Regions from separate parts of the Homo sapiens genome. Here region 1 is reported to be linked to region 2. The links are microRNA targets in miRTarBase. Many come from high-throughput screens and were not tested one by one. Region 2 holds a microRNA gene; the other region holds the end of a gene's coding sequence. Distances are between the middles of the regions.

The links. Region 2 holds the annotated microRNA hsa-miR-519d-3p (CAAAGUGCCUCCCUUUAGAGUG, at 1,709-1,730, shown strand). A microRNA usually pairs through its seed, bases 2 to 8, with sites in the 3' UTR of a target mRNA and lowers its output. Matches are read on the target gene's strand: a 7mer-m8 pairs with bases 2 to 8, a 7mer-A1 pairs with bases 2 to 7 and ends in A, and an 8mer does both.
Region 1: the mRNA of RFXANK is a reported target of hsa-miR-519d-3p. The part of its 3' UTR that is shown has no 7-base or 8-base seed match.

Annotation. Positions count from the first base shown.
Region 1 is chr19:19,201,399-19,204,596 of GRCh38, reverse strand. It overlaps RFXANK (regulatory factor X associated ankyrin containing protein), which reads right to left. Exons shown (of 10, transcript NM_003721.4): 10 at 2,731-2,948. The coding sequence ends at 2,878. NR2C2AP (nuclear receptor 2C2 associated protein) reads left to right here and starts at 1,183. Exons shown (of 5, transcript NM_176880.6): 1 at 1,183-1,574; 2 at 1,716-1,806; 3 at 2,022-2,127; 4 at 2,199-2,266; 5 at 2,556-3,188. The coding sequence starts at 1,537. The coding sequence ends at 2,672. RefSeq lists an enhancer at 983-1,277 and a silencer at 1,941-2,207.
Region 2 is chr19:53,711,692-53,715,087 of GRCh38, forward strand. MIR519D (microRNA 519d) reads left to right here and starts at 1,656; the gene lies at 1,656-1,743. MIR517A (microRNA 517a) reads left to right here and starts at 577; the gene lies at 577-663.

The DNA of each region.
Region 1 (3,198 bases), 35 Mb from region 2:
AACAACAAAAAACACCCGACCTCGCATGCTCCCTCCTCCAAGAAGCCTTCCTTGACGTCCCAGCAGCATTTTCTGGGAAAGACAAACTTGGAGGCCAGGGCTCCTCTGTCCCAACAAGAACAAAAAGGGTTGATGAGGACTTCAGATACTCCCAACATCGTGGCCTTTTCCACAACTCTGCCTTTGGCCTCCGGGAGGCAGTGAAGTTCGGGGATTCCCAGGCTGCATTTAGTGGTTAGGGTAGAGTAGGTTAGAGTAGGTTAGGGTAGCCGTTAGGGTAGAGTAGGTTAGAGTAGGAAGAAAGACATTGTCATAGGAAGTCTCTCTGGCCGGGCGCGGTGGCTTACGCCTGTAATCCCAGCACTTTGGGAGGCTGAGGTGGGCGGATCACTTGAGCCCAGGAGTTCGAGACCAATCTGGGCAACATGGCGAAACCTCATCTCTACCAAAAAACAAACAAACAAACAAACAAACAAAATAGCCTGCCGTGGTGGCGCGCGCCTACTAGTTCCAACTATTCGGGAAGCTGGGTAGGAGGATTGCTGGAGCCTGGGAGGCAGAGGTCGCAGAGAGCCGCGATCCCACCATTGTACTCCAGCCTGGGTGACAGTGAGACCCCACTTCAAAAAAAAAAAAAAAAAAAGGCCGGGCGCGGTGGCTCAAGCCTGTAATCCCAGCACTTTGGAAGCCCCGGCGGCTGGATCACGAGGTCAGGAGATCAAGACCATTCTGGCTAACACGGTGAAACCCCGTCTCTACTAAATATACGAAAAATTAGCCGGGCGTGGTGGCGGGCGCCTGTATTCCCAGCTACTTGGGAGGCTGAGGCAGGAGAACGGCGTGAACCCAGGGGGCGGAGCTTGCAGTGAGCGGAGATCGTGCCACTGCACTCCAGCCTGGGCGACAGTGAGACTCCGCCTCAAAAAAAAAAAAAAAAAAAGGAAGTCTTTCGGATTCCAAAATCAGTCAAAATCAGTGCTCTACACCTTCGGGCGCCGAGGGACAGCGCCCCGTGCGCGCAGCCAGCCTTTTCCCTACAGCTTCAAGGGAACCAAGGTAAATTCAATCATCGAACCCGGGCCCTTTAAGAAGCGAGCATGAAGGGGCGGGGTCGAACCAAACCCCACCTCTGGAGCGTCCGCGGTCGGCGCCTGAATTACAACACGCATGCGCCAAGCCCACGCGGTTCCGGGTCCCAAGATTTGGCTCCAAGAGCTATTCGCAGAGAAACAGCCTCGCACAAAAAGCCACCGCCCCCGAAACCCGCGGGAAATCTGTTTCCTGTGAAAGGCCTGGCCTCCGGGCATTGGCGGTTTCCCTGATCCTCTCTCCCAAATTTTCCGGCAGGGGATTGATCGAGGCGACATTTAGGACTGGGGTGGGCGAGGGAGTGGCGGTTCTCGTCCCAAGTTACAGGTGAGGACGTTCAGGCCAAGGCGTAGCCAAGATCGCGCCGCCCTGTAGCTTGAGGAGGCGCCGGGATTCGAACCAAGGCTGTGCCCAATCCTAAGCCCTGCGAGGTCTTGTGGAACCGACATGACCCACTCTTTGGTTTGTCCAGAGACAGTGAGCAGGTAAGAGTCTGTGGGGACAGGCAGTGGCGAGGCCCTAAGCCTGGGGTCGAGCCCTCAGTGGACAGATCTGGGGGTCAGGCCCTCCGCGGAGCTGAGAGCTGGTCTCAGCCCCTCTCTTCGCCTTGATCCTGGTGCCTCCAGGGTGAGTTCAGTGCTGAATCGCAACACTCGGCAGTTTGGAAAAAAACATCTTTTCGACCAGGATGAGGAGACATGTTGGAACTCAGACCAGGTGAGGCGCCTCCCTCGACCCTCCATCTCTAGGGTGATTCAGATTCAGATCTCATGCCTTGAGAACGTCAGGGGGCCCTCATGGGTGGCCAGGAAAGGAACATGTGCCGAATTTCCTTCTTCCCCTCCATTCCAAGAACTATGTGAATGAGACAGGCATAGCAGGGCTCTGTGCCTGCAGTGAGCTTGCGCCTCAGTTTCCCTGTCTGCTTCCAGGGCCCCTCCCAGTGGGTGACGCTGGAGTTTCCCCAGCTCATCCGTGTCTCCCAGCTGCAGATCCAGTTTCAGGGTGGCTTCTCCAGTCGCCGGGGCTGCCTGGAAGGTACTAGAAGGCCCTGGGTGGCAGGGGTTCCAGGGGTCACCCCAGACACTCATTGCCTTTCTCTGCTGAAGGTTCACAGGGCACTCAGGCTCTCCACAAGATTGTAGATTTCTACCCTGAGGACAACAACTCGCTTCAGATATCCTGCCCCTGCTTCTGGGGTGGGTGGTCTGTGCCTCTGGAAGCTTTGGACTCACCCAAACCCGAATGGGAACCCTGATGTGTGATCTTGAACACGTGACCTCTAGGACTCCACTTTTTCTGTAAAATGGTGCTGATGACCACCTGTTCTGTGTGAGAGGCTTAGAGGGACCTGCAGCTTCCCCAGGTTGCCCACATCGGTGGAGTGTGAGCTGGGTCTGGAAGGGGTGGGGGCCTGCGGGTGGGAAACCAGAAATCACCAGTTTCCCTTGACTGCCCACGCTCACACTTTCCCCATACCAGCTGCTGAAGTGGACCGGCTGAAGGTGACGTTTGAGGATGCCACTGACTTTTTTGGCCGTGTGGTCATCTACCACCTGCGGGTGCTTGGGGAGAAGGTGTGAGACCTCTAGGGGCTGTCTCCTCCAGGAAGCCCTCCGGGAAGCACAGCAAAGTCCCTCATTCTGCACAGAAGGTTTATTGGTTCCTCTTGGGAAGGGTCCCCTCCCACCACCTGTCCAGAAGCTGCCTTTGAAGTCAGTTCTGGGTTTCCCCAGCTCTGGCTGACCATTTTGTTCCCTGAGTGTCTGAGTCCCCGGCAGGCGGCCTTCACTCAGGGTCAGCGGGCACCAGGTTGCTCTGGAAGAGCTTGAGGATGTGGTTCTCGATCACCTGTTGCACTGAGATGGGGCAGGGAAAAGGTGGGCTGTGAGCTTGAATCGGGAGTGGGGTGGAGGCACAGGCCAACCTGCGCTCTCCCCTTAGGGGACAAACAGGGACCCTTGCAGAGACCTGCATTACAGAGCAAAGCTGGGAGAACCGAGGACTCACCCCAGGAACCTCAACTTCCCCTAAGTTTGTAAAAATGCACTTTTGTAGCTTTTCAGAATTAATATAAAAATATTTCCTACCAAGCAAAATGTGTGAATT
Region 2 (3,396 bases):
AAGTTAGCCACCGGCCTCTGCCTCCCAAAGTGCTGGGATTACAGGCATGAGCCACCACGCCTGGCCTAATTTTTATATTTTCAGCAGAGGCGGGGTTTCACCATGTTGGCCAGGCTGGTTGCGAACTCCTGACCTCAGGTGATCTGCCCACCTCAGCCTCCCAAAGTGCTAAGATTACAGGCGTGAGCCACCACACATGGCCATTAACACCTTTTAGTCCATGGAAATTATTCTGGCACTGATTTATAAAGCCTCATGTGGGGTCAGGTAGAGTCAAAGGGGGACCTCAGTGTCCCTTGCAGATGGGATGTGCTCAGCAAGAGCACGGAGGTGGAGTGCATGGGGTTTGAGTTTTCACTGGGGAAATGAAACCAACATCTTGGGTGCATGACCAGGTCATATATGCAGTCATATATGCAATATGCATGGTGGTGGGTGCCTCTAATCCCAGCTACTCAGGAGGCTGACGCAGAAGAATCGCTTGAACCCAGGAGGCAGAAGTTGCCATGAGCCGAGATCCCACCACCGCATCCAGCCTGGGCGGCAGAGTGAGACTCCGTGTCAAAAAAAAGAAGATCTCAGGCAGTGACCCTCTAGATGGAAGCACTGTCTGTTGTATAAAAGAAAAGATCGTGCATCCCTTTAGAGTGTTACTGTTTGAGACAAGCAACGTTGAAGATGCTGCTGATCTTGGTAATACATTTGCAGAGCGTGCTTATCATCAGACTTGCATGATGTCGGGGTTCTGTTTGTGATTTGAAATTTTTCCAAGACAGGCTTTCTATTGCCCAGGCGTGGGTGGATAGCACCTTCCACCAAGATTTCTTGGGCTTAAGTGGTCCTCTTTTTATTTTTTGATTTTTTGAGACACACTCTTGTTTCGTTGGGAGTGCAGTAGCAGGATCTCTGCTCACCGGAAACTCCACCTCTCGGGTTCCAGTGATTCTCCCACCTCAGCCTGCCGAATTGTTGGGAATTCAGGCATCAGGCACCCACCATCGTGTCCTGCACTCTTGCTGCCCATCCTGGAGAGCACTGGCATGATCTAGGCTCACTGCAACCTCCGCCTCCTGGGTTCGAGTGATGCTTCTGCCTCAGCCTCCCAGGTAGTTGGGATTACAGGCACCTACTGCCCCACCCAGCTAATTTTTATGTTTTTAGTAGAGACGGGTTTCACCATGTTGGCCAGGCTAGTCTTGAACTCCCGCTTTCAGGTGATCCACTAGCCTGTGGTCTATCCTGGAGGATGTTTGTGTGTGTGACAATGTATATTCTTCAACATCTTAGACTCCATTTTGGATGCTCCCATCGGAACTATGTATCCCTGTGCTGGAACTCAAGTGAACACTCAGCTCAAAGTCCATTGCTGTTCTCTAGAAATCCAGCCCAGTTCTCTTGGTTAAATATAAGGTATGTGTAGTAGGCATTGCTTTTTCTCTTTAGAGGCAAAACTCAGGAGGGTTGCCCCTTGATGAACAAGGCTAACCTGCAGAGCCTTTGAAGAAAGGAACTGGAGATGGTCCTTTTAGGGGTTTATGTTCTGGATTCTAGAAAACAGGCAAACAGGGCCAATAAATGCATCTTTATTGTTGTGGCCATTTTAACCTGGTCAAGGAAGATTTCAACAAAAAACCCAGAGTGCTGGAGCAAGAAGATCCCATGCTGTGACCCTCCAAAGGGAAGCGCTTTCTGTTTGTTTTCTCTTAAACAAAGTGCCTCCCTTTAGAGTGTTACCGTTTGGGAAAAGCCACGTTGAAGATGATGCTGATCTTGGTAATACATTTGCAGACCATGCTTGTAATCAGACTTGGATGATGTTGGGAGTCTGTTTTTTTGTTTGTTTGTTTGGTTGGTTTTTTTGTTTGTTAGGTTTTTGTTTTTTGTTTTGGTGTGTGTGTTTTGTTTTGTGTTTTTTTTTTTTTCTAAGACAAGGTCTCTGTTGCCCAGGAGAGACTAGAGAAGCACTTTTTAAGATAGGCCTGTTGGGCTCAGATGGTCCTTTTATGGGATACAGTCTTGCTCTGTGACCCAGACTGGAGTGCAGTGGCGCGATCTTGGCTCAATGCAACCTCCACCTCCCGGGTTCGAGTGATTCTCCTGCCTCAGCTTCCTGGGTAGCTGGGATTACAGATGCCTGACATCACACTCGGCTAATATTTGTATTTTTCTTTTTTATTCATTCATTCATTTTTGAGATGGAGTGTTGCTGTCACCCAGCCTGGAGGGCAGTGGCATGATCCCGGCTGACTCCAACCTCTGCCTCTCAGGTTCAAGCCATTCTCCTGCCTCAGTCTCCTGAGTAGGTGGAATTACAGGCACCCACCACTACAACCAGCTACTTTTTGATTTTGATTTTTTTTTTTTTTTTTTTTTTTTAGTAAAGGTGGGGTTTCACCATGTTGGCCAGGCTAGTCTCAAACCCCTGACCTCAAGTGAGCCGCTGGCCTCGGCCTCCCAAAGTGCTGAGAATACAGGCGTGAGCCACCGGGCACAGCCATCAGCACCTTTTACTTTATGGAAATTTTTCTGGCACTGGTATAGAACCTCACGTGGGGTCAGGTGGAGTTGAGGGGACCTCAGTGTCCCTGCAGATGGGATGAGCAAGAGCACGGAGGTGGAGTGCATGGGGCTTCAGTGTTTATTGGGGAAATGAAGCTGAAATCTGGGTGCATGACCAGGAGATAAATGCATGAGACGGCGGTCTCACTATGCTGCCCTGGCTGAAGTGGGCTTAGATCCTCCTGCCTCTGCCCCTCCCCAGTCCTTGGTAGATGGGACCACATGTGAATATTAACCCCCCATGCACAGACAAGAAGAAAGTAAGGACTGTTCTTTGGTTCATACCTGACCCCAGTTAAACTTGTATTTTAGATAAACAATGTATTTGAGATGTACTTGAACAACAAACGATTTGCTGTTCAGGTGTGGGCATCTTTGTTTTGTTTTTTTTTTTCCTAATTTTAAATATGGGACTAGTGTGCATATGGTGGCTCTTGTCTGTAATTCCTGCACTTTGTGAGGCTGAGACAGGAGGATCACCTGAGATCAGTTGTTCGAGACCAGCCTGGCCAACATGAAGCCAGGAGGCTGAGCTTTCAGTGAGCTGAAATCTTCTGCTGCACTCCACCCTGGGCAACAGAGTGAGACTCAGTCTCAAGAAAGTAAAAAATAGGCCGGGCGCGGTGGCGCATGCCTGTAATCCCAGCACTTTGGGAGGCCGAGACGGGAGGATCACCTGAGGTCAGGAGTTCAAGACCAACAGGGCCAACATGGCAAAGCCTCGTCTCTACTAAAAATACAAAAATTAGCTGGGTGCAATGGTGCACATCTGTAATTCCAGCTACTCCGGAGGCTGAGGCAGGAGAATCCCTTGAACCCAGGAGGAGGAGATTTCAG